3 linked regions of the Homo sapiens genome follow. The protein of the gene in region 2 purifies or fractionates together with the protein of the main gene of each other region. This does not show direct contact. Each region holds a gene or a part of one and is shown on either strand. Other genes may lie near its edges.

Region 1 (8,759 bases), about 87 Mb from region 2:
ATTTAAATCCCACTACATTCCTGAGGCTAGGTTTGGTTAGTTATCCTCAGGTTACAGGTGAGACAGATGAAGCTGGGGCTTGCTGACTTTCCCAAGGTCATGCAGCTGGTGATTGGTGGGAAAGTATTCAAACCCAAGTCTATCTGCTTCCAAAGCCTGGCCTCTTAGCTGCTCTGCCATCCTGCTTCCCATGAGGACATGGCCACAGCCTTAGCACTCACTGGTGAAGCTGGATCAATAGTAGCAATGGAACTTTCCAGTTCCAGGATGAACAAAGGCAGTTAGAAGAAACTTATCTTTGGGGACGGAGCGTGCAAAGGCCAGCAGAGGCAGGTCTCAGACCCAAGGAGGAATGGTTTCTTGACTCTTGTTTGTCCATTTCCCAGCTAGCCTGAGATGTTTTTGGTGTCATCAGTTGGGCTGACCTGTCTCTCCAGTCTGCTTTTATAGAGAAACTGTTGTCATTTCCACAGCTGCCTAATGGTTGGAGGCAAGGCATTGTGTGAAGCTCTGGAGACCCAAAGAGGCATAAGTCACAGTTTTAGTCTTCAAGGAACTTAACAATCTTGCATTTGTTAACATAAATGCCAGATGATGCAAGCGAGTGTATGCCCGTGATGAGTGTTACAGAGTTCTGAAGTGAGGGCGAGAATTTAGAGGCGAATTTCCACTGGGTGTGATGAGGCCATGGCGGCGATTCAGAACATCAAGAGTCCTCAGTTGTGTTTATTTACTAGATCATTCCAGTTTCAGGGCTAAAGATTTGACAGAGATGATGCAGGTTCAGTTGACATTTATAAGCTGCCTTCGAACTCACAGGCTGTGTTTCTTTTTAATGTTTGTTTTTACTGCAGATTCTTTTTCCCTCTTCTTGACCTATTTGGGCCTTTCTAAGGCTGAGGCTGAAGTGGAATTGACTTTCATTCATGTGGAATGATCATTCTCACTGAGAATTGACCCCAACTTTTGTTTTCCAATGCCATTGAGAAGGCCTAGAGAGAGATCTCAAGTAGTAAAATGAAGAAGGGAACTGCTGTTATTATTTCTGCTTTGTTTCCTTTGATTTCTCCCTTGGCCTTCTTTTCCTTCCCACCACCCTCTGCCCTTTCATCCTTGCACCTTGTGATGCTGTGTGGCTGCCACTGAAGAGTATTATGCTCTTTTTGGGAGAATTCCAAGGATACTGCCTCCTCAGAACTGGCTTGGTCCTGTTGAGTCACGCATTAGGGCTTCAGAGGACCAACCTTGGCTCCTGTGGAGGAGGGACCTCTGAAAGCTGGCATTTATGGCCCCGGGTGCTGTGAGTACCTCCCCATTTAACTCCTGTGCCAACTCATAACTGGAAAGTGGGTTTCTCAGAGCTGAAAGGAAACATAAGGATCAATCTGAGGACTTTGGGCCTGAATGCTAGGCCTCTCCCTGGGCCCTGGGGTGGATAAGTGTCTTAATTCAATTCCATCCAGTGTGATGAGCATTTATTGGGTATCTGTTATGTGCCCTCTAGAAGCTGGCCGTCTGGCAGGAGAGAAAGGCTTACATCTGTGACACATTTCTAGGATAACATAACGTGGTGTTGTTCAAGATGCTATATTATGGTGCACTCTCTACTACTGTGTAGAACAGGACTGGAATAGTGAGGGAAGGTAGCACTTGAGCTGAGCTTTGAAGGCTGAGTGGGGTTTGGCTTCATGGCAAGTGCTGGCATCTGAAGGAACATCATGAAGAGATTGCTGGGGGCCAGAGAATAAATCAAACTGGAGTTTGGTGTTCTGTCAAATTTTGTTGATCAATTAATACCCTAACTATGTACCCTCAGCACGGGACTGGAGCTTCCTTTAGTGGATCTCCAAACACTGCAGGAGCTGCTGGGTGGTAAGCACTGGAGCAGGTTTTAGAAGCAAAGTCACCTGCTCTCCTTGTGTTACATGTTTCAGTATATGGAAACACACACACACACACACACACACACACACACACACACACACACACACACAATCCTTGCTAGTACAGGGGAAACTTGGGGCAAGAATGTGGACAGTGAATGGTGCAAGCTACATTAGAACGCACGTCTACCCTCCCAGCTTATCCAATTGCAAGGGAAACCAGCAAGAGACTGGAACCTCCTTGCGCCTAGTACTTAAACTTAACCTAACATCCTCTGGGAGGCAAAGGCCAGCATAGGGGAGGCGAGGTTGGGAGAAGAGGGAGGAAGCTGGAGTTCTGTTTTTCCTAACAGTTAACTGCTCAGGTTCCCAGCTTTGAAGGGATTAAAGATCCAGGGGTGATGGTGGGGAGAGGAGGAAGCAAAATGGGTAGTGGAGAAAAGAAACAGTGAGGATCCTAGAAGACATTTGTAGACTTCTACCCACTGAGGTATTATGAACTTCAAATTCCCCAAGTGAGGTTTCTCTCCTGACTTTACCTCTCTGTCTCTTTCCTCCTAGATGAGTTTTAAAATCCCACTGCAGATATTTCTGCGGAGTGTTAGCACTAGCATGGTGGCTCTTAACCTTGGCTAGGCAACAGAGGCATCTGTAGTGCCTTCTCAAAATCCAGATTCCTGGGCCACACTCCAGACCTGGGGGAGATGGGAGTACAAAGTAGAGACCTAGATTTTTCATAAGTTCCCCAGTTGATTCTGATGCCCGCTGAAGCGAGGACCCCTGCCCTGGTGTGGTGTGTTAGGGACACTGGTCCAAGGCTTCCTCCCTGGAGTTCTGCCCTGCAAGCTGGCTCCCTCCCCCCTTCACCCTCCTCCCCTTCACCTGGGCACCTGTAGAAACTTAAGTAGTGAAGTCTTCTGTTTTATGTCACAGCTTCTCCTTAGTTTCTTTTCACCATCAGTCCCGGGGGATTCTCAGGAACATTCTCCCGATATCCTGAAGCTGTTGGCACCTCACCCTAGATTAAAGGAAAACGTAGAGTCAATGACTACTGAAGTTACCAGCCATAATCTACCAAGGTTGTTACAGGTAAAACTCAACTCACCCAGCTCGCTCGTGACGCTTCGTTTGGCTGTTTTGTGGGCAAACGTGGGGAGTGAGCCCTCCCTCTCCTATTTTGGTTCCTGAGAAAGAAGAAATTGAGTCACTAGTGGTTCTGTTCTTTGCAAAGAACCTCTTAAAGATGCAACTGTGAATTTCAGGCATGGTCCCAGAGTTTATTCATTACATTGAAAAAAAATTATGAAACAGGGTCTCTTTCTATCACCCAGGCTGGAGGGCAGTGATATGATCATGGCTCACTGCAGCCTCAGACTCCTGGTCTCAAGAGATCCTCCCACCTCAGCCTCCCGAGTAGCTGGGACTATAGGCACGTGCCACCATGCCTGGCTAAGTTTTTTTTTTTTTTTTTTTTTTTTTTTTGTAGAGACGGGGTTTCACCATTTTTGCCTAGGCTGGTCTCGAACTCCTGGCCTCAAGTGATCCTCCCACCTTGGCCTTCCAAAGTGCTAGGATACATTTTTTTCCAGTTCTTGGTTAGATCCAGCCGAGAGAGATTTTACAGAGCTAGAAAGGAATTGGCTCACTGCCCCTGGGCCATACCATTTGGGTGGGTTTATAGGCTTTGGGGATGAGTCTGGGAAGAGGGCCTAACAATCCCTCCTTTCGAGCTTTTGTTTGTTCAAGCTGCTGGCCTTTGAGTGCCAGCACTTATCCTGTGCAAAGACAACTCTGATCCTCAAATGGATGTAATTTCATATTCCTGCACTATGCCTTATACATAAGTAAGCTTCCAATACGTATTTGTAACAGAGAAGAGGAAAGAGATGTTGGAAAGAAAGTTGAGTTGAAGGACCTGGGAGGAAGACAGGTATTTGTACCTTTCTTTGAAAACCAGGAAACAGAACACAAGAGAGATGGGTTCCAGGCCCTGGCTTTCCCGGCAGAGGGTAAGTGGTCAGAAGTTGAGGATCAGAAGCGCAGACTCCAAGGCAGAGTTTAGCACTGAATGCCTGGGCATCTTTAGGGGGCAGTTTTCCCTCCATTCATGCCCGGTGTTCTTCTCCTGTGTGTAAGCCCTGGGCTCTCATAAAAGGACTGAAATGCAGGTGCGCCCAACTTTTCTTAAAAAATGGCAGAACTTAGAGGATCTCCTGAAATCACAGAACCCCCAGTGATTTCAATAATTAAGATCACTATTAAATGATTGAGAATGCTAATACTGAACCCAAATGCCTGGAGTGACTTCTAATTGCAGCTCCATCTGAAAAGAAGAAAAACAGCAACCTTGGCTTTCCAATGTCAACCAGCTGGGGAACAAGGATTGGATTTCCACCCAAACTTTGCTTTGCAAAGCAGTATACTCCTGAGTGGCCAATGCCTTGGGTTCATGGAAAGTCAAGGTTGTAGTATTGCTGTAGTGCTGGAGAAAACCCCAACTCCCAAGTTAGACACAGAGAAAACCCACATTATTTTTGTCCTCACCTCATTGTTTTCTCCCAGCTATATGCTCCCCTTTTTCACCTGTCTGCCAGTTTTTTTTTGGTAGGGTTAGAGGGAAACAACACGATGAGTATCTTGACCTATGGACTATGGGTTTAGATTAGAGAGGGGTTCTCCATGTAAATCTGCATAAACATGTTGTTATTGCACTTATTTCTAAATCCTTTTTCAAATATCCATCTCCTGGGAAAATATTCTTGAAAAGGCTAGAGACATTGTTGATTTTTTTTGCCAGGTGATTTTGTCTTTTTTTTTTTTTTTAATGCTTTTCACCCCAAATCTAGTAAAAGGAATAGTTTGTACCTTGTTCATTTGACCAGTGTAACATACAGACCTGGAGCATGAGGTAACTTGGCAGGCCTGTGAACAGACCTGTGCCAAAGCCCTACCAAAAGTCCTTTTGGAGCTGGAGTTTGGGGATCGCAGACGGCCGTGAATGGCAGTGAGGGCGAGAGGAACTATTGAGTGACAGGATCTGCCGTCACTGCCTGCCTTGGTTTTGCTAAAGTGGTTACTGGGGAAGGATTTTATAGGAAGGGGAACTGGTGCCTATCCCTGGCATTTCCCCTTTTTACACCTGCCCAAGGAGGCTCTCCTCCTACATACCTTCCTGTCCTTGCCTAAGGAAGTTCCCTAACTCCACCCAAGCTGGGAATGCCTTGGTTGCAGATACTGTGCAGAAAAGAAGTAGGAAATAATGCCTTATGACGGCCCCCAAGTTGAGCTCTGTGTCCACTATGAGTTCGGGGTGGGGATCAGGACTCTATAGTTTCCCTTTGTTCCTCTGGGTAGGAATATGAGAGGACAATATTAGTCCTAAGAAGATTCTGATATGTGGCCCTTTCTTCATCCAGGACAATCTGGAGCTCCCACATTGTTCTAGTCAGGAGGAAGCAGCAGCCAGGGGAGATGGCAGCAGTCTGATGGACCCAGCTAAAGTGAAGGGGGATGGTCAGCAGCACCACATGAAAGACCAGGAAGAAGAGGAGGAGAAGTGGGATGCTACCTCTCCAAAAGCTGCTTCCAGCAAGACTGGAAAATGCCAGGAAAAGAAAAGGAAACATTGCCAGATTGAATCCCAAGAAGAAACGGGGATGCCTAATAAAGCCTCCAAGCAAGGTACTGGCTCTACCCAGAGAGAAGGTAGCTTGGAGGAGATCCCCGGGCTCACCAATATATACAAGTTACTTACCTCTGTCTGGGGGCTCCTTAGGCTCTGGGTGTGGGGCCCAGCTCTGGCATTTACTAGCTGTGTGACCTCAGAGATTGCTATGAGGCTTCTGTGAGATCATGTACAGTGCCTAGCACACTGTAAAAAGTGTTCAATACTAATTATTAATATAATGGAAAGCCAAGGCATCAGGTCAAGCACAGTATCAACTAATGACATCCCATACCCATGGGGATGCCACTTCCTTCTAGGTCAGCCTCTTGCTACCCCCATCCCCATTCTAGGAATGCAGGATGAGGAAAGTGAGGTCAGGCCTCACCCTGCTCATTCCCAGTTGTGTTCCCATAGGTAGGCATGTGAGAAGCAGCAGCTGTGGCTTGCTATCTTTCCACGAGAGGTTGGCAGTGCCAAGATTCAGTTTTAGCTTTGAAGGCCTGGCTCAGTCCATTGAGTTGCTGTAGCTTCTGCTGTTGACAGAGGTGCATGTTGCATTTGAATGAAGTCCCCAGGGCTCCTGGACATTGTTTGACTTGCATTTCTCTTTCTGTTGGGCCTGCTGGAAACCTCTGAGAGCCTACTTCTGAGTGTCCCATTCTCAACGGCTCAGGTGTCCACTAAATCAACTCTCTGGGAGGTGGTGGTGAGAGTGGCAAACTGAAAAACGCATTGGATTATTTTGCCTCAGAAGTACTATCTATGAAACCGGGGTGGCTCCAGCGCTGACTTCTTGCTTTCTAAATCGCAGATCCTCCCACTGATCAGGGGGACAAACCTGCTCTCAGTTTACCACTTGCATCTTTCGACGCATCTGACCTTGAATGCGCTCTATGTATGAGGTACGTCCTGTGTACTATCATTTACTTCCTGATGTTTCTTCATCTCTGGTGTCTGGACCTTTCTGCTAGTGACCTACTGCTGGGTTGGTTAGCATGTAAAAAGCATAGCTCTAACGGAATGGAAATCACAACGTTGATTGTCACATGGGTCAGCTTGTGTCCCCTTCCCAGAGACTGCATTCCCTGCATTCCTGGCTCCTGACTTGGAAAAACCTGGAGAGTGGGAAGGGAACAGTCTATTCACAGGTCACAAACTGATGGCCCACTGGGCTGAATATGTCTGAATATGTCTTTTTTTTTTATGTCTTTTTTTTGGAGACAGAGTCTTGCTCTGTTGCCCAGGCTGGAGTGCAGTGGTGCGATTTCAGCTCACTGCAACCTCTGTCTCCCCAGTTCAAGCGATTCACGTGCCTCAGCCTCTTAAGTAGCTGGGATTACAGGCCTGTGCCACCACGCTTGGCTAAGTTTTGTATTTTTAGTAGAGACAGGGTTTCACAATGTTACCCAGGCTGGTCTCAAACTCCTGAGCTCAAGTGATCTGCCTGCCTGGGCCTCCCAAAGTCCTGGGATTACAGGCCACTGCACCCAGTCTGAATATGTCTTTTGTTTGGCCCTCATGGGGTTTGTTTTTCTTAAACGTGAATGTCTTGAGACAGGACATGTACTCTCCATTTGACCACGCCCCCGCCACCCACCTGCCTTATTCCAACCTGTGTGTCACAATTGCATTACATTCTTAGCCCCTAGAGATAATTTAAATTTTGGATCCCAGCACTAATCTCAGTTACATGGGCAAGAGCTCAAAGTTCAAGGACTACTGTCACCACCACAGACTATTCTTGGGAAGCCAAGTGGTGGGCCTGACTAGCTTTTGTTTTGTGTTGTGCCATGAATATTAGTGGTGGGCCTGAGATACTTAGCCAAGTATCTCCCCACCAAACAGTGCCACATCATCTCTACTTTCTCAGATCTCTGGAGAGGCAAATTATTCACATGCTCCCCCACCCCAAAAGAAAGAGGCTATGATTATGGTGTGTGTAACCATACACAATTTTTTAAAATTGCTTACATGTCTTTGATTTCACAGCTGTGACTTACTGGCTTAGAGGAGAGGCTCCCTGCTCTGTCATTTACTGGCTGTTGACCTGGATGGAGCAAGTGACATTCTCTGCTACTGTTTTCTTGTCAGTAAAATAGAGAACAGTGTACCTACTCCATAGGGTTGTCATGATTAATTGAGAAAAATCTGTTTAACACCTGGAATAGTGCCTGGCATATAATAGATACTCAGTAAATGTTAACTATTTTTTTTTCCTTGTAGACCAGAGGTCCAGAAGGAAACTTTGGGTCTATGGACCTCTGAGGATGTTCTATATATGGATTCTAATAGATGTATTAATGTCTCGAAGTTGTATGTTAAAGTATGTGGGTTTTCCAGGACAAGGTCCACATCCTTTAGCAGATTCACAAATGTGTCTGTTTTCCAAAAGAGCATTAAAAGGAGGCTGAGATATTTGCACAAAAATTAAGACGGTTGGCAGGCTGCTGTTCGTTGTGCTGGCGGGTCCTGCGGGGAGGGCTGTGGAGCTCCAGATGGACTAAAGAACAAACCAGCAATCCCGAGAGGGCCCACAGTCCCTCTGAAGGAAGCGGGTTGCTTCTGCAGGACCCAGGAGACACCCCAAATACTCTGGGAGGCAAATAGCCTCGGTCGAGTTCTCAAGTCCCTCTCACTCTCCTCCTGGAAACAGACTTGGAGCTGTTGGGGAGGGCACGGTGGAAGTGAGACTGGCCCTTCAGTTTGCATGGGAGCTGGGTGAGGCCTGTGACTGCTGTATTTCCCCAACTTCCCTGGTAACCTGCATGACTCAGCAAAGGCAGCCATAATCCTCCTAGGTACACAACTCCAGTGACCTGGGAATCTCACCCCCATCCCCCACAGCAGCTGCAGCAAGACCTGCCCAAGGAGAGTCTGAGCTCAGACATACCTAGCCCTGCCCCCACCCAATGGTCCTTCCCTACCAACCCTGGTAGTGGAAGACAAAGGGCATATAATCTTGGGAGTTCTAAGGCCCTGCCCACCGCTGGTCCCTCTCCACACTACCACAGCTGTTGTTTTCTGGAAAGCACCACCTCCTGGCAGGAGACCAACCAGCACAAAAATAGAGCATTAAACCACCAAAGCTAAGAAGCCTCATGGAGTCCATTGCACCCACCACCACCTCCACCAGAACAGGCACTGGTATCTATCTACTGAGAGACCCATAGATGGCTCACATCACAGGACTCTGCAGACAACCCCCAGTA
Region 2 (8,759 bases):
ACATGGACAGAGTCCCCTAAATGCCTTAATTTTACAGTGGTTAGCACTTCTCTGAGTCTTTATCTGTGAGATAAGGAAAATTAATTTTTCATTTTAAACTCACTCAGCTCTCACATACTAAGCATTTTAAGAGTACCGCTTACTATTTCAACATGTTGCTGTAAAGACATGAAAGATGAACTTTAAGCCTACAGTTTATATCTAGAAAAACAAAAAGGGACAGTTAGGAAAAGTAAAAATCAAACAATTAGAGAAGGAGAATATAGGGGGAGGTAAGAAATTCTGAAGCTATGGCATATGCTGCATCAGAGCCATTGTAAGGTTATATCAAATACTACTTTTCATTAAGCTGTTACTGTGACTATCACAAATGACTCTAGGGCGTAAGAATTGGGAAAGATAACTCTAATCAGTGGCCACAGTGAAATTAGTTTTAAAATGCATTGACAATTGGTCAAGTATAAAGATGTATCTTGAATATTTCTACACCCACCTGTCTATCTATCTACCTACCAACCTATATACCTACTTATCATCTATCAATTATCCCTCAGTTCTAATTAAAATACGATGCCAAATATAACTGCAATATTAAATTGATTATTCTTCATACAGATTGTGATTACTTTATTATCATGGATAATTAAGAGTTAACACAAAAATAGCCCCCTTCACATTCTGAATTTTGGATCTTTAATATATAAAACTTAAGAATAAATCGTTTATGAGGAAAATATATCCCAGAATTTTACTACAATTTTTTAAAAATATATACTGGTTCACACATGCTTCCTTTATTTCACCAGTCATTATTACGTTGTACAAATATTTGTTGAGAGCCTACTATGAATAGGGACATAATGGCATTTTAAGTAAGTGGTTTATGGAGATTTTTGATCCTGTGCCTATTTAGCCATAAAGCATTAGCAACTTGATTAGTTTGTAACGAATTTTAAACCTGCATATTGGGTGTGTCAAGACCTGGGGAAAATTGGAATGGAGAAATGAGTTAGTAGTCAGATAATTCAAAGCAAAGGACTCCCCCTTGAATGATCTATTAAATTGAGGTGAAACTATTTTATTAGAATTTTCTTTTTGATTGCCTTAATCTTTCGCTTCATTTTGCATCTGCAGACACAGGCTTGCTGGTTAGTGTAAGGTTATTTATGACACATTACATTCATAACATCTAATATGAAGGATAATAGGCTGAAACATTCAGCCAGGTGGAATTAGACTTCACATGCAATACAGTTTCGCTATTTCTCGTATTCTTCCAATTGCTCAGAATAATTCACCTGCTATTAAACTTTAGGGTATTAGATTTAACAGAAAACAGTGTATTTATTAATTTTCTTGAAGTATTAAAAGAAGTCACAATAATATGCAACATACTTCCCTTATATGCTTATAAAATTAAGTTATGGTAACTGCTTTTGACATTTTAAAAATATACACCAAATTAAATGGAACTGACACTATCACAGAAGAAGTTCCCAAGAAGTCTCATACATGGGCTGAACCCTATGCAGTTATTATTTACATAGGGCAAAATGGTTGAGTATCTGTTTGATTCATATAATTCAACCTAACTTAACTATAAAGACTTAGTTTCCAGATTTTGACATCCTGGTTTTGTGAGGAGTACTTTCTTCTATAATTACAGATGATGATCATTCCTCTTCATCTTACAAGTGTTAATAATAGGAACAAAAATGTACCTGTCAGAAAACCTCTATGGTTTATACCTACTACAAATAAAGAAGTGAGACCAAGCTAACAATTCTGAATCGCCTTTTTAAAGAGAGAACCATACACTTTCCATTCAGTTGTTTGAAAGAAGAGCAGTCACTCCTTTTTGTTTTGGCTGGTAACATTTCAGTAATAACATTATCTGATATTGTTCAATCTGCAATCAATTAGCAACCATCTTACTAGGCATCCAGTTCTTTTATGGGCACTGTAACCCATTAAGTAGTTAAACCAGGTGTGAGGATTAAGCTATTATTCTTCAAGTCAATGAGATAATGGCTTATGCAGGTTGACATAAGATGTACCATGAAATATTTATTATTTATCATGTATACATTAAGAAAGTAAAATCAGCATGGGATGATCTCAGGAAAGCAATACATATTTTTTGGATTAGACATTGAAGTAAAGTGAATGTATGATAAATTGACAAATTAACATTGCCAATGTTATGAAAAATGATGTAGCAAAAAAAATTAAGATGTATTTTCATTTTTGATAAGGGGTTTTCCCTGTTATCTGTTAATTTCTTGTGTCTTTAATTGGCAAAATTAAGCACTAGTGTTACAGAAGCCCAAAGTGAGGGAAACCACTCACTTTCAGAATGTACATTAGAAGTTTAAAACTGTACCCAGATTTTTTGTCTCTTTTTTTTTTATTAGTAGGCCTCTGTTAATAGAGTAGTAGTTGCAAACACATACGTGGGTTTGCCAGTAACAACTCACAATTTGTGCAAAGTTGAGTCTTCGAAACTGAGCAAATTTGCTCTCAATTTCCCGCCAGCGCTTGCTGAGCTGGATCTGAGTTGGCTCCACTGCCATTGCGGCCCCATCCTCAGACAAGCCCTCAGCTTGCCTACGCACTGCATTCAGCTCCTCTTTCTTCTTCTGCAATTCCCGATCAATTTCCTATTGAGCAAAACCAATACAGGGCCCAGGGCAGTTAGCTAACCACATCAACCGACTTGCAAGCAGCAAATACTTCTCTCAAAATTTCAAAGGCTGTTGTCCCTTTATTGTCATCCTTTGAAGTTTACAAATATGAAAGGCATGACTGTCATCCTCGCTCAATAACCCAAATATTATTTCAGTTATCCTTTGAATGCTTGGTTTTAGATATTCTAATTAAGTAAATATTGAAATTGGTCTAACATTTTCTTTCTTCTAAATTCCTCTGGTGTCTTGGGATTTGAAACAATTTGGAGTGATAACTCATTATTTATTAGGGACCGTCCACATAGAATATAATTTAGAGGGTAAGTGAATAAGTTATTTATTTCCTTTTTAAAGGTTTGAGGAACTCAACAGAGAATGAAGCAAAATAAAAAGTGTAAAATAATAACAGAAAAAAACATATTTAGACAATATGCAAATAAATCTATAGAGAGTGAACACTGATGTGTGAAGATGCTCTGATGAAATGAATGGGCTAACATGAGTAAGAAGTCGTCCATATACCGATAAGTCATTAGTTCATCTGGAACAAAGATACACAAAGTCAATTACAATTTTACCAGAAAACACATCACATTTCTTAAATCACTTTACATAGTCTAAAACATTTTATTCATTCAACATTACGTCAATTGAATAACACTTAATACAATACATTTACTGAAAACAACACACAATACAAGGAAATGCATCAAATCAAAGAGAACGTTAATAGAAACAAGAACATCAACATTTTAAATATGATCTTCACAGGTTAATTAAACTGTATAATAAAATCTGGTATTGACATTCTAAAACAACATTACCTTTATTTTCCTTTCATCTCTGGGCTCAGGTAGGCTGGCTAATTTTTTTTCAATGTCATCCAAGCATTTCAGGAGATCATCAGCCTGCCTCTTGTACTGATACCACTGATGAGAAATTTCTAGAGCCTTTTTTCTTCTTTGAGACCTCAAATCCTGTTCATGGTGCAGACATTATTAAAATATCAATATATATGTATAGTGCACTTCTGGCTGCAGTTATTTATCAAAATAATTTGCGTCCCTCATCTTTTTGTACAACTTAGGTTAAAATCATATTTAAATGCAAAATATACAAAGACATAATTAAATTGCCTATGCATGAGGCGGGACCCATGTATAGGAAGCTAAGAAACCTGAATAACACACTTAAAGTATTTTCTCTTAGCATGTTCAAACTTGCTTAAAAATTTTGTCACATTCAATTGACTCTTAATGAGCTAACTGTTGTGTAGTTTATGTGCAAGAGTTTAATATACGAATACAATTGACTTAACTAGATACAAACTCACAAACCTAGTGAGTTTGTATCTGACTTAAAATAGGTAAAATTCTAAAATGTATATCTTTAGCCTTGGGGCTCATCAACAAAACTTTATGTACTCAACCAATATACATTCATGTTTTTAGAAATGCCTACATAAGAGTTTCATAGGCCATTAATATTTTATGATTAGAAATATAAAGCCATTTTAGTTGTCTTATAAACTGTTCCAAGCTGTATGTGTAGAAGTGTCACCACTGTTCGTATATTGGTGAACATAACTAATAAAAAATTATGTGAGATAAATGCTTCTCCTTCCAAGGCTTGCATAGCCACATTTATCTTACTATACCAAATCATGCTCTAAATGCAAAACAATTAACTATTTGAAAAAAGAAAACAGCAAGTGCATGCTTTCAAATCAATGTGATAAGACTAATTTAATAAATCAACAATGGGAGGAAATCAGTCATCATGCTCTTTACAAGCACACTCAATATCTTCTGTGATTAATAGAATTACTCAAAATGCCATTTTATAATTCATGGGAACATAAGCTCTGCATGCAGCTTTCATTTCTACAGAAAGTAGCAATTAGGGTTTTATTCACAGGTTTAATTCGAGCGAAAAAATAATAAATATCAGGGAATTTCTAAAAATTTCATTCCATTGGAAAATTTTGACCTTCTCTAAAATATTTCATAAGGACCAGAATTGGAACTATTTGACAGGTTTAAAAAGTTATTGAATATGTTGGTATAGATTGGTTTGGCGAGTAGTGTTGACGATTTTGATTAATCACTTATAGCCTGTATTTGCAAGAATGAACTACATTTCATTATCTAGTTTGTTTAAAATTGGGAATTTAAACCTTGCTGTACTTTATGTTTTATGTTGAATTTTCAAACCTTCTGAGGAGTCAGATCGAACGCTGCTTTTTTCAAAGGTAGCAAGATACAGCCACGTGAATTAGAGTTGAGCCATGCCTTATTTGTGACATAACTCACATCTTTGCCAGGAGAAAGGGCTTGGTGGTCATCAATCTGAAACATCTTTCATTTCCTAAGCACAAAGTGATGTATAATATGTAAAATATTTAGAGATGTCATGTAGATTTCTTTAGAGGAATGCCAGATGACCATTAAACACTGCTATTCAGTAGGACACACACCATCATACGACCAGTGTAGATACTTCTGAAAGCTTGCTCACAGTTGGAAGGGTGTGAGTTACATAGCGTTCCGATTTTCTAGACACATTATGGTGTGCTTTTGCACTCCCTCGAGGAAGAGGCCTTTTCTGTTTACTATATTTATCAGCAGTTACCTTCAGAACACCTGCTGGCCAATTAGACTTTCCTTGTGGATTCCTTGCAGGCACAATATTGTGTAATTACATTCTCAGCAGTGTTTATTTGGTTGACTATAGGGGGAAAGGTTTTATTCTCTTATTTGCATGTAGAAAGCAGACTCCATCTACCTGCTAGGTGGATCCACCTTCATAACTACATAGCTCAAAAGAGTGATTTACAAGGAAAAGCTCAGCAATTAAAAGTATTAGAAAATCAGCCATGCATGCAAATAGTGATTATTGCAAAGCATATACAAAAAAAAAGTTTCACAAAACTTTCCACATGTCTAGTCTCAAGAACTTCCTAGATATTATTATAGAAAAATTAAGTTTATCCTGCTCTTCCTGCACAAACCAGATGAGTCACCTGGGGACTTGAAGCCATACACTACACTGCTTAATATGAAAGTAGCAGTTCTTATTCAAGGGCACTAAGATTATTTTTTAGGATTCCTACATAAATGAAATTTGACTTTGTAGATAGTTGCAAAGAGTGACTTTCTTAAAGGCATAATAAAGTTTTAAAAATAAATAAAAGAATCTAGGGCTTATTAAACAAGTATCAGGTTACCAAAAAATTGGACCTAATGCAAGCAAAATCAATTAAGTAAAGAAAGCAGGAATAATGGATACATGTAGATCGGTTATTCTGGCAGTTAGGCAGGTTTTTTTCAATATAAAGTAGCTGATAAAAATAAAGCACATTAGAAAATTAAATGTATAAGTACTATGAATGCATTCCCATCTTTCAATTACTACTTAGAAAAATATGTCTTTAAAAAGCCATAACTTTTAAGCAACACATCGTTCAAAATCAAATACCACTCAAAAATGTTAAATAAAGCATACACATTGAACAGAAAAAGTGAGTTTCTGATGACTAAGTCTGAAGCAGATTTTATTAATGCACATTATATTTTACCCTATATATTAAAAAAAAACCACAGGCAAGGTATATTATAATTTTAGCTCTAATACCTTGAGAGCATTATGTTTTGTCTGTAACAGCTGCTGTTTTATCTTTATTTCCTCTCGCTTTCTCTCATCTGTGATTCTTTGTTGTAAGTTGTCTCCTCTTTGCAACAATTCTTTTACAGTACCCTCATTGTCTTCATTCTGATCAAAAACAACAAGTACAGTCTTCATTTTGGTTTTTAAAAAGCTGTACATTGTTAACAGAGATAATAAGACATGTTATTTAAACACACACAAAAATCCAATTTAAAACTTTCATGGAATGCTATTATAAGATACTGTGCTCATAGCCTTTCTTTTACATTTGGTACTTGAGGTTTCAAAATAAGTTTCCTCCCATCTAGTTGTAAAGAACACATTTTTAGGGGCACCTGTAGAAAGATGGGGGAGTGTGGTACTTCATCATGTCAGACAAGTCATGAATTACTGTGAAAGTATTCTTTTGGCTTTTTTAGTGTAGTTCTAGAAATTAAAACATTAGAGAAATGAGCTAAAGTTATCATTTATAATGTTAACTGATCCATAAAGGAATACAGATGTGTATTTGTGACTGAGATAACAGCAAATCTGAAAATATTAACACACAACTACATGAAAATATTTTGATTTAAATGTACACTAATTCCTATCTAATAACTCCTGCTTCATTTCTGAAACCTAAATGCTCAATATTAATAGGAGAAATATCAGGATATTAATAAAAATCATGTGCTAAGTTACCATCAAATAATTTCTAAAATATGTCATATATGCATGTTAATTTAAATACGATCAAATAATACTAAAATATGGACTGGAAAATGGCTTTAAACATTTTCAATGGGTATTTTGTTCCTTTAGGCTGCAAGAACAATATCTTAATTTTCTTTACTTAGAAATAAAATGTTTTGAATAAATGCTGGTCTAATATAGTCGCATATATGACCATGTGATTTTTCACCTTTAGTTTTCTTTCTTTCAACTCAGAATGTGAAAACTTTGTATCAAGTAGTCTCACATTGTAATGGTACTCAAGGTACACTGATGACATAAGGAAAACAAATAATAAATTTCAAAAGTCACAAGTATTTGTATGTGTGTATTACAATTCAAGGAATTAGATGTTATATATTTAAATCTATAATGCATAAACTTCAACACGCAACTGAGGACTGATTCATTTTGTATGGGGGAAAGGGATTATTTTTGTCAGAGACTGGTCAATAATCTAAAGAAACATACGGCATAATATAGACACATTATATACTTATCATAATATAGACACATCATATACTTATAGTCTGTAAAAGACTTTACTTATTTTAAAAGGTGTTGTAAAAGTCTGTAGCATTTTCTAGGGCTGAGGACAAAAACAACAAAAAATTAAAAAACCCACTTCACTTCTTTCCCTATACCAGTTGAGGGCTCTAGGGCAGAGTTGGGGTCAGCCCAAGAGGTAATCAGTACTTTTTTTCATCTTGGTGCCCTCTAGTTTCTTCTTTGACCTGAAGTAGAGATTGCTGTAACTCAGCAACTTGGAAAGCCTCTTCCGTCTTTCCACAAGCTGAGTTGGCAAGGCCACCAAACCCCATACATGGGGAGTATTGATTGAGGCAGCTCCAGGAAGTGGGAACTAAGATTGGTGGGAATAGTTCTCCTATTGCTTCACACACTTATTACCTAAAATTTATATATTGTCTTCTGATGTCACTTTCAAGCATTGTCTGAGAAGGCTCTAGCACTGGTAATTGTAAAGGTTAAGAATGCCACAGAGGTGATGGCAGTGAAAGAGGGGAAAAAATTGTGAAAAGGAGGATGAAGAGAGAAAAAAAAAGTCAGTTAATAAGGATGTGATGTACAAATATTCAAGCCAGAGAGAAATGTAGTAGATACTTTGAAATTAGTTGGGATTGAAGGAGAATATTCTGAGGTTGGGAAGAGCACACATGGTCATATTTCTTTACTCCCATGAAATAAGCAGCATGAATTTATACACATTTTAGACATATAATGTACTAACTAAACAACTATTTGGTAAAACAACTTTGTGGGAAATTGTAATAAATAATGTTCATATTATGCATTATTCTCTCTTCATTGAAATAAATGTTATACTACCAAAAACATTGCTGATACAAAATGTCAGTCATCTATGATAGTTGAGTATTTTATTAAATTTTTAGTTTATTTTATGATTCGACTCTTTTTTCCAATTACATTTTGCCCTTGATAAGTTCAAAAGTAGGTCAGGTCAAAAGAAAATTGCTGGGCTATTTATTAGAAACCGTAAGTGCTCCTATATTACCATACCATAGTAATTCAGCATTTGTAATAAAAGGCCAAGAATATTCTGCATTTATAAAATTCATTAGAATCATAAAATGTGTAATATGTGCTCTGAAAATTCAGTTGGAGACTTATCTAAGTTCTTTCCAAATATTTATTTCCACTCCTAGTTCATTC
Region 3 (8,759 bases), on a different chromosome or scaffold from region 2:
AATGAAATTTGCCCAGAAATATTAATTAACTCGCCTAAGTCATAACTAGTAAGTGATGTTCCAAGGATTTCAGCTCAGGTTTAATTAATCCCAAATAGTAGTGTTGTTTCTATTTTTGCGTTTGTTGTTGTGAAGCAAAGTACCTGTAAGGATTGGGAAGAGAATGCTATAGTGCACAGTGAAAGACTTGAGTATTTTTTCAGCATTTAACAGAAAGCTTCTGTGAATATCTTGTCAACTGGAGAATGAAGCTCCTGATTTCCCTCTAAACTTGTTTTCTCATTATAGACTGATTCTCACAGAGATTTGCTGAATAACTACATTTTATCTAGTGTCTGCTAGCAAAAGTTGATATCATTGTTTGTTTTAGAACTGGTGTAAAACTTGACCTGTATGTTTTTGTTTCAGCTAATGCTTTTAAAGCTTTGTTACAAGAATTTGACAATGCTGTTTTAAGTAAAGAAAACCACATGCAAGGGAAACTAAATGAAAAGGAGAAGATGATCTCAGGACAGAAATTGGAAATAGAACGACTGGAAAAGAAAAACAAAACTTTAGAATATAAGGTTTGTTTTGACATTATTATGATAGATGTATGTGCTGGTGTTTTAGCACTGTTCTCTGAGGGAGATATTGTGCTCCAACGGCCTGTAAATGCTGCTTATTAAGAGTTCTCGGTTGAGTGCGGTGGCTCATGCAGGTAATTCCAACACTTTGGGAGGCTGAGGTGGCCAGATCATCTGAGGTCAGGAGTTCAAGAACGAGCCTGGCCAACATGGCAAAAGCCCATCTCTACTAAAAAAGTACAAAAGTTAGCTGGGCGTGGTGGCGAGTGCCTGTAATCCCAGCTACTCAGGAGGCTGAGGCAGGAGAATCGCTTGAACTGGGGAGGTGGAGGTTGCAGTGAGCCGAGATTGAGCCACTGCACTCCAGCCTGGGCGACAAGAGCAAGACTCTGTCTCAAAAAAAAAAAGAGTTCTCAGGCTGAGTGCGGGGGCTCATGCCTGTAGTCTCAGCACATTGGGAGGCCAAGGCAGGGAGATCACTTGAGCCCAGGAGTTCCAGACCAGACCGGGCAACGTGGCGAAACCCCATATCTACAAAAAAAATTAGCCAGGCATGGTGGTACATGTCTGTAGTCCCAGCTACTCGGAAGGCTGAGATGGGAGAACAGCTTGAGCCTGGGAGGTTGAGGCTGCAGTGAGCTGGGATTGCACGACTGCACTCCAGCCTAGGTGACAGAGCGAGAGCCTGTCTCAAAAAAAAAAAAAAAGTTCTCAATTGGTTGTTTACTAATCCTCATCCCATGCTAAGGAGGAAATGTGAGTGAAATGAAGAATCATATGTTCTTTAATTTTATGAGAGTTTTAACAGTTGAAAAGGATGTTCTCTGACCCAAACAAGGGAGCTTTCTAGAGCTTAGCTTTGGTTGTAGCTTGCTTTTGAATTTATTAGAAATATTTCCTTAGTATGCTTTTTTTTTTTAATGAGATAAATGATTAAATGAAATGGTATAAAAGTGCCAGCATCGGGCCTTGGACGTAACAGATACTCAGTAAAGCTTAATTGGATCTGTATTTGGTTTACAAATCGATTGTAAAAGTATAAACTCAGGATTAATCTCTTACAATGGGGTAGAAGGAAATACCGTTTTGTTGGGAAGCATTGCAGCACTGTGTAATGTATGTCTGTTCTCTCATTTACAGAGGGTCATTTAGAGGTTTGGTGGGGGTACACATTCATAAGAGAAGTTAGTCTCAACCAATATAGTTTTTTTAAATTCTGAAAATAGCCTAAAAACTAAATTTTAGCCCTTAATTTTAGGAGAAAGTAATTTTCACATGAAGTTAGTTGTAAATGTCTTTGGGTGAGGAGCTTGTTTAACATGTTTTCATTTCTGAGAATGGGGGTGGGAATTCAGATGAAATGTTAGAGAAAAAAGTGCTTTCTCCATGATGTTTCTTTCCACAAATATGCTTGCATAAGCAAATTAAGGAAGACTATTTTATAGCGACATGAAATGTTTATATACCAAATATTGAACATAGTGGTCTACCTTCCTAGATTGAGATTTTAGAGAAAACAACTACTATCTATGAGGAAGATAAACGCAATTTGCAACAGGAACTTGAAACTCAGAACCAGAAACTTCAGCGACAGTTTTCTGACAAACGCAGATTAGAAGCCAGGTTGCAAGGCATGGTGACAGAAACGACAATGAAGTGGGAGAAAGAATGTGTGAGTATCGTTTGGGTAGTGCTTGTCTCAGAGTCGGATGATTTATTTTACATTGTAGTTAGGTTCGATATTTTGAATTATTGTATTTGCGGTAGGGTTTTGGTGGTGGTTGTTAACTCTCAGGAAGAATTGGAGAACTGTCATTTTTAGGAAATAAAGAGATTGGGTAATCTGGTGTACTCGTTTGCTGTGATGGAATGATAATATACATTGCCACTGATAATCTGTAGGAGCGTAGAGTGGCAGCCAAACAGCTGGAGATGCAGAATAAACTCTGGGTTAAAGATGAAAAGCTGAAACAACTGAAGGCTATTGTTACCGAACCTAAAACTGAGAAGCCAGAGAGACCCTCTCGGGAGCGAGATCGAGAAAAAGTTACTCAAAGATCTGTTTCTCCATCACCTGTGCCTGTAAGTTATTTGTAATTGTGTAGTAACTTTGTACTAGAGAAATTTTGTTCAGATTAGATGACTATTTCTATGAGGATTTTTACATTTTATAATACTTACATTTCTGAAATTTCTCTAAAAATATTTTAAAATTTAGAATAAACACAAATTTAGCACAAAAAAATAGAACAAATAATTATTTGTAATGTTAAGTCTTCATGTGCTAACATTATAGAAAAGTAATGAATTGTTTCTCTCAGTTTTTCAGTCTTGCTCATTAATTTTTCTCCAATTTTTCTAGCTTTCTAGTAACTATATTGCTCAGATTTCCAACGGCCAGCAACTCATGAGCCAGCCACAGCTACATAGGCGCTCTAACTCTTGCAGCAGCATTTCTGTAGCTTCCTGTATTTCGGAATGGGAGCAGAAAATTCCTACGTACAACACACCTCTCAAAGTCACATCTATTGCAAGGCGTAGGCAGCAGGAGCCAGGACAAAGCAAAACTTGTATCGTGTCAGACAGAAGGCGAGGGATGTACTGGACTGAAGGCAGGGAGGTGGTTCCTACATTCAGAAATGAGATAGAAATAGAAGAGGATCATTGCGGCAGGGTTAGTGCCAGTATTATTTTAACGCATTGTAGCAATAGATTTTATCTTCTTTGTTTTTTGTAACTTGTGTCTGAAAGTTCATTGGAAAAATGGTTGGGCTATAGTATAAAGAAGGTCTAATTTCTCAGTTAATTTGAAAGATTGACTTACGGAAATTGAGGCCTGGCTCCTCATCTGAAAAAGCCTAAACACATCTGGCAGCGGAAGTGTGTTCAGTGAACACAGGTCAGTTTGGTGCATCCCAGAGTAGTCTGAGCTTTTCAGCTGCATACGCTAATAAGCTTTGCACAGAATTGGTGAATGTGTCTTAAAGCATACTTTCCATATTTTTCTTTTGGTTCCCCTTCCCCAAATTAGATTTTTTATACCTCCTTTCATGCCCTAGTTTTAAAAATTGTTTTCCCAAATTTTTATTTTGAAAAATTTCAGACCCAAAGCAAAGTAGAAAGAATAGTATGGTAATGTCTTTCCCTCCTTGCCTAAGTTTACCAATTGTTACTTGATATAGATATGTAAACCTTTTTCCCCTAAGCCTTGTGAAAGGAAATCACAGACTTAGAGACACTTAATCTCTAAGAATAAGGACATTGTACTACCTAGCCACAATCTTTATCACATCCAAGAAAATCAACATTAATTAATTATCCTCTATTGAGACATTGTGCAGTTGTCCCAAAATTGGATTGGCTTTTCTTTTTTTTTTTTTAAAGACAGAGTCTCACTCTGTCACCCAGGATGGAGTGCAGTGGCATGATTATGGCTCACTGCAGCCTCAGTCTTCCTGAGCTGAAGTGATCCTCTCACCTCAGCCTCCCAAGTAGCTGAGATTACGGGCAGGCCACCATGCTAATTTTTTATTTTCAGTAGAGACAAGGTCTCACCATGTTGCCCAGGCTGGTATTGAACTCTTGAACTCCAGCAATCCTCCTGCCTTGGCCTCCAAAGGTGCTGAGATTACAGGCAAGCCACTGCACCAGCCAGCTTTTTTTTCAATCCATGATACTATGAAAGTGTATGCATTGCATATCATGATTATGTCTTTCATCTCTTTTAATATAAAATAGTCTCACCCTGTCCCCCTACTTTTTTTATTTTTATGACATTGACTATTTTCATTGAAGAGTTTAGGCCAGTTATTTTAAAATTACTGATTTCCATGCCCAATAAATTGCTTTTAATCTTGAGGCATTTATCTCAATTTACATTTGCCTCATTCAAGGGTATTTAAATAAATTCACTTTCATATTTTTCTTCTTAAAGATTAAGGTAAAGTTTCTTTTGAATCTGAATAAATGGACCAAGTTAATGTTTGCGAATTTTATATTTAGTAAAATCTTCACAAAGCTCTCTTAGAATATTTCTTCTAAATCTTACAGTAAACATTTACTTTAGATTTTCTTATATAAGTCAGGGTATAGATGAATGTTCATTTATGTGGCCTGAATTCCTGATTATTAAGGGATGGTGATGAATCCCAAGTTATTTACCAGGGAAACAGATGATTCTAAAGTCTCTTAAGTTCTTTACTTTGCAGATTTTTCCTTAAACATTTTTAGACAGCAAATTAGGTAAATGGTCATTCTGACCAACTCTAGTCAGTCATTTTATGAAAGTTTATAGGCTGAAAACTATTCAAGGCTTGCGTATGCCTTGCAAACCGTAATGAGATATCTAATTTGGCTATGAGATATTTAAGGGAATTTACTAGAGATTCTTACGTGAAATCAAAATCTCTTTAGAAGTGCAGCAGAAAAGTTACTGTAAGGTTAGTATCTGTGCATCTAAGTTTGTTGGTCAAAAATTATGTCAGGTGGACTGAATTTATACTTCAGTGAGGAAAAAATTTAAATATTTGTTTCATAAATGCTAGTAGATTGTATGGATTATCATCTTTCTGAAGTGTGTTTCATCATATGCTTATTGTTAAATGTTTGAAGAAAACCTTTGTTTTTGCTAAATGGTAGATGATAAGGACCAGACTTTCTTTCGTGTTCAACATTAAATAAATCATTGTAGGAATGGAAAGTTCCTGTTTGTCTTGAGGCTCAGCATCTTTAGTGGCAAACTGTATTGCCCATGTCTTAGAGCTGTCACTAGTGCTGCATTTGTTTCTTGTTAACTATATAGCGAAAATGATTCAGTTCCTCAGATGTGCATTTTGAAATTGAGGTCTTCATACTTGACTAGCTTTGACAGATTTGGCCTGTGATAGACTTTTTCCATTTGCTTTCAGTTTTGTTTTTTGGGTTTTTTTTTTTTTTTTTTTTTTTTTTTTTTGAGATGAGGTCTTGATCTGTTGCCCAGGCTGGAGTGCAGTGGTGTCATCTAGGCTCACTGCAGCCTTGACCTTCCAGGCTCAAGTGATCGTTCTACCTCAGCCTCCTGAGTAGCTGGGACCACAGGCATGTGCTATCGCACCTGGCTAATTTTTAAATTTTTTGTAAAGATGGGGTCTTCTTACATTGCCTAAGCTGGTCTCGGGTGATCCTTCTCCCACCTCAGCCTCACAAATGTTGGGATAACAGGTATGAGCCACTGCACCCAGCCCTGCTTTCAGTTTTACAAACAGGAGATGTTCATAAAATTCTAAAGATAATTCATTGCTTCAAACTATAACTATGGCATATATGTGACATATTATTTTCTTAGGCTGAATGTGCTTAATTTAGCATTCCCAGGTTTACATGACATTTGACTGGAAGCAACTTGTTTGTTTTTGAGGCAGGGTCTCATTCTATTGCCCAGGCTGGAGTGCAGTGGTGCGATCTTGGCTCACTGCAATTTCCACCTCCTGGGCTCAAGCAATCCTCCCACCTCAACCTCCTGAGTAGCTGGGACTACAGGCACGTGTCACCAAGCCCAGCTAATATATATATATATATTTTTGTTTGTTTTGTTTTGTTTTGTTTTTGTTGAGTCTGGGTTTCACCATGTTGCCTAGGCTGAACTTGAACTTCTGAGTTCAAGTGATTCCTCCACCTCGGCCTTCCAAAGTGCTGATTACAGGCATGTACCACCATGCCTGGCCTAGCAACTAGTCTTTTATTGTGTGATAGAGACTGATTTGACACTGTATTATTTATTTGTTTCTTGGAACCTGTATGAAATGTTTGGGGGAAAAATTAGTTGGTATATTGTAGCCATTACTGTATTTGAACTTTTCATGAAGTTCTATTATGAGATTTTAAAATCTTAACTGAAAGCACTCAGAAGTATTTCACATTTCTTTAATCATTTTATTCATATGGTTCTTATTATACCTATGTTCTTAGGATTGTTTTCTGTTTTGTTTAGAAGCCTAGAAAATGTGTAGGGCTTTCATTGATCTTATTGAAGATTTTAACAGAGTTGTGGACATAATAGATTACCTCTCAATAGCAGGGATAAATATTGGTTTTTGATCAAGAATATGAAATGAGTTGTTTGTCCTGAACCACCCCCAAGCAGGAAAGACTTGCAGCATTACCAGAATTTTTTCTTTTATCCTTTATTGAAAGGGAAACTCCCAGATAGAATGTGTAACATACAAGTTGGTGTTAAAGATGTTTGTTGGTTTTGTGTTTAAATGCAAAGATCATGTTTAAATTACTTGAATAAAATATTTAGCTTTGGAAAGGTTTGCTATGATACTGTCATCAACTAATGTAGCCAAACCTGCTGCACTTCTAATAATACCCTTAAATTAATTCTGGGTTATGCTTGTTTCTCAGTTACTCTTTCAACCTGATCAGAACGCACCACCAATTCGTCTCCGACACAGACGATCACGCTCTGCAGGAGACAGATGGGTAGATCATAAGCCCGCCTCTAACATGCAAACTGAAACAGTCATGCAGCCACATGTCCCTCATGCCATCACAGTATCTGTTGCAAATGAAAAGGCACTAGCTAAGTGTGAGAAGTACATGCTGACCCACCAGGAACTAGCCTCCGATGGGGAGATTGAAACTAAACTAATTAAGGTAAAAAACTAATTTTCACAGGAGAAAAAAATATATTTAAAAATTCAACAAAAGTCCATTTGTCCTGCTACTCCTTTGGTGACACACAGGTAGTGTCAACTGGAACATCAGTAGGTATTTGATATAACCTTTTTGTTAGCAGAAAATTAGTCACTGCTTAGGTTTTAAGTCTGCCAAACTGGGACTAAGTATGCTTTAAATAGGTATAGATTCTTCGGTTTCTTAGAATTCTAGATCCATGATGTACTTTAATTTTTTAATGACTGTATATTTAGTTTTAACCACTACTTAAAGTAATCTAAGCAAAGAATTCCTATTGCTCTCCATCAGTTCAAGATAAAAAAACAAAAACAAAACAAAACGAAACCTATGTTAAAATTTGACCCGTCAAAATTACTCAGTATTGAGCTGCCTAAAGCCGTTTTCCAGAAAGAGACTTGCCTGACTATAGAAGAATTCCCCTTTGATCATAGGGTCAGTGAATAATCAGGAAAGTAAAAGATAAGACCAAAAAAAAAAAAAGCTTTTTATTTCAATTTCAATTTAGAGTTTTTGTTCTTATTATAATTAGCTACAAATAAGACTATACTGTCATTTGAATATGGGCAACAGGGGGCACTCAGAGAAGAAAGTACCATGCCTTAGAGCGTGTAGAAACTTCCAGCAAATTTCTTGATCCTTAGTGCAGTTTAGTTTTTAAATTACAGATGGAGCAAAAGGAATATTTTTTTCTGCAATTATGAATGTTACTGATTACATTGAATTGGACTTCTTTTATTTGTGAGAGATATGTACTCAAATTTCTAAATTATTTTGATAGTACGTACTCAGCAAGTACCAAGTACCATCTGATTTTGTGGATGGGAATTTCTATAAAATAGAATCATGAGAACAGTTTGAAATATATATGTGTGTTTTTCGTTTGGGTGTATCAATGTGTAACAGTGACCTTTTCTTTTGGCTTTAGGGTGATATTTATAAAACAAGGGGTGGTGGACAATCTGTTCAGTTTACTGATATTGAGACTTTAAAGCAAGAATCACCAAATGGGTAAGTAACCATCAAAAATCTCTGTATAAAAGTTGGTCATTTTCTTAGCTGCTCATTTTGGAGGAACAGAATAGCCTGTGAAATGTATCATTAATTCTCCAAAGGGATGTAGATAGTATTCCCCTACTTCTAATATTTTTCCTCTTCTTAGATGGAAAAATAATTGTTGCATCATGTTTCCCCTTTTTCAGTAGTCGAAAACGAAGATCTTCCACAGTAGCACCTGCCCAACCAGATGGTGCAGAGTCTGAATGGACCGATGTAGAAACAAGGGTAGGGGAAAAATTAAATATTTGTCTGCCTACTAAAATTAGGTTTGTCATGTTTTAAACCCCACAGCTCTAGATTTTTATGCTCTTTGAAAATGCTGAGGTATAATCTCACATTGCCAGTGCACCATGTAGGCCTATTCCTAGAATAACAAGAATCCACTTCATCAGGAACTCCCTTGCAAGTGTTATTCCTGAGGAGAATCTCTTGGAAAGAACATGGGAAGGTAGGGGTCAG

Evidence for each region.
Region 1: the proteins of DMD (region 2) and LONRF3 purify together in Homo sapiens (affinity purification with mass spectrometry; 2 studies listed by BioGRID and IntAct, with this or other methods). This does not show direct contact.
Region 3: the proteins of DMD (region 2) and KIF23 purify together in Homo sapiens (affinity purification with mass spectrometry; 2 studies listed by BioGRID and IntAct, with this or other methods). This does not show direct contact.

Annotation. Positions count from the first base shown.
Region 1 is NC_000023.11:118,984,109-118,992,867, forward strand, and holds part of LONRF3 (LON peptidase N-terminal domain and RING finger protein 3), read left to right. Parts: intron 1-2,816; coding exon of another isoform or gene 2,817-2,972; intron 2,973-5,299; coding exon 5,300-5,564; intron 5,565-6,361; coding exon 6,362-6,452; intron 6,453-8,759.
Region 2 is NC_000023.11:32,339,623-32,348,381, forward strand, and holds part of DMD (dystrophin), read right to left. Parts: intron 6,459-8,759; coding exon 6,321-6,458; intron 3,665-6,320; coding exon 3,512-3,664; intron 3,229-3,511; coding exon of another isoform or gene 3,220-3,228; exon of another isoform or gene 2,745-3,219; intron 2,661-2,744; coding exon 2,478-2,660; intron 1-2,477. UniProt on the Homo sapiens protein: Anchors the extracellular matrix to the cytoskeleton via F-actin. Ligand for dystroglycan.
Region 3 is NC_000015.10:69,437,840-69,446,598, forward strand, and holds part of KIF23 (kinesin-like protein KIF23), read left to right. Parts: intron 1-408; coding exon 409-566; intron 567-2,064; coding exon 2,065-2,238; intron 2,239-2,468; coding exon 2,469-2,648; intron 2,649-2,928; coding exon 2,929-3,240; intron 3,241-6,950; coding exon 6,951-7,202; intron 7,203-8,169; coding exon 8,170-8,252; intron 8,253-8,443; coding exon 8,444-8,525; intron 8,526-8,759.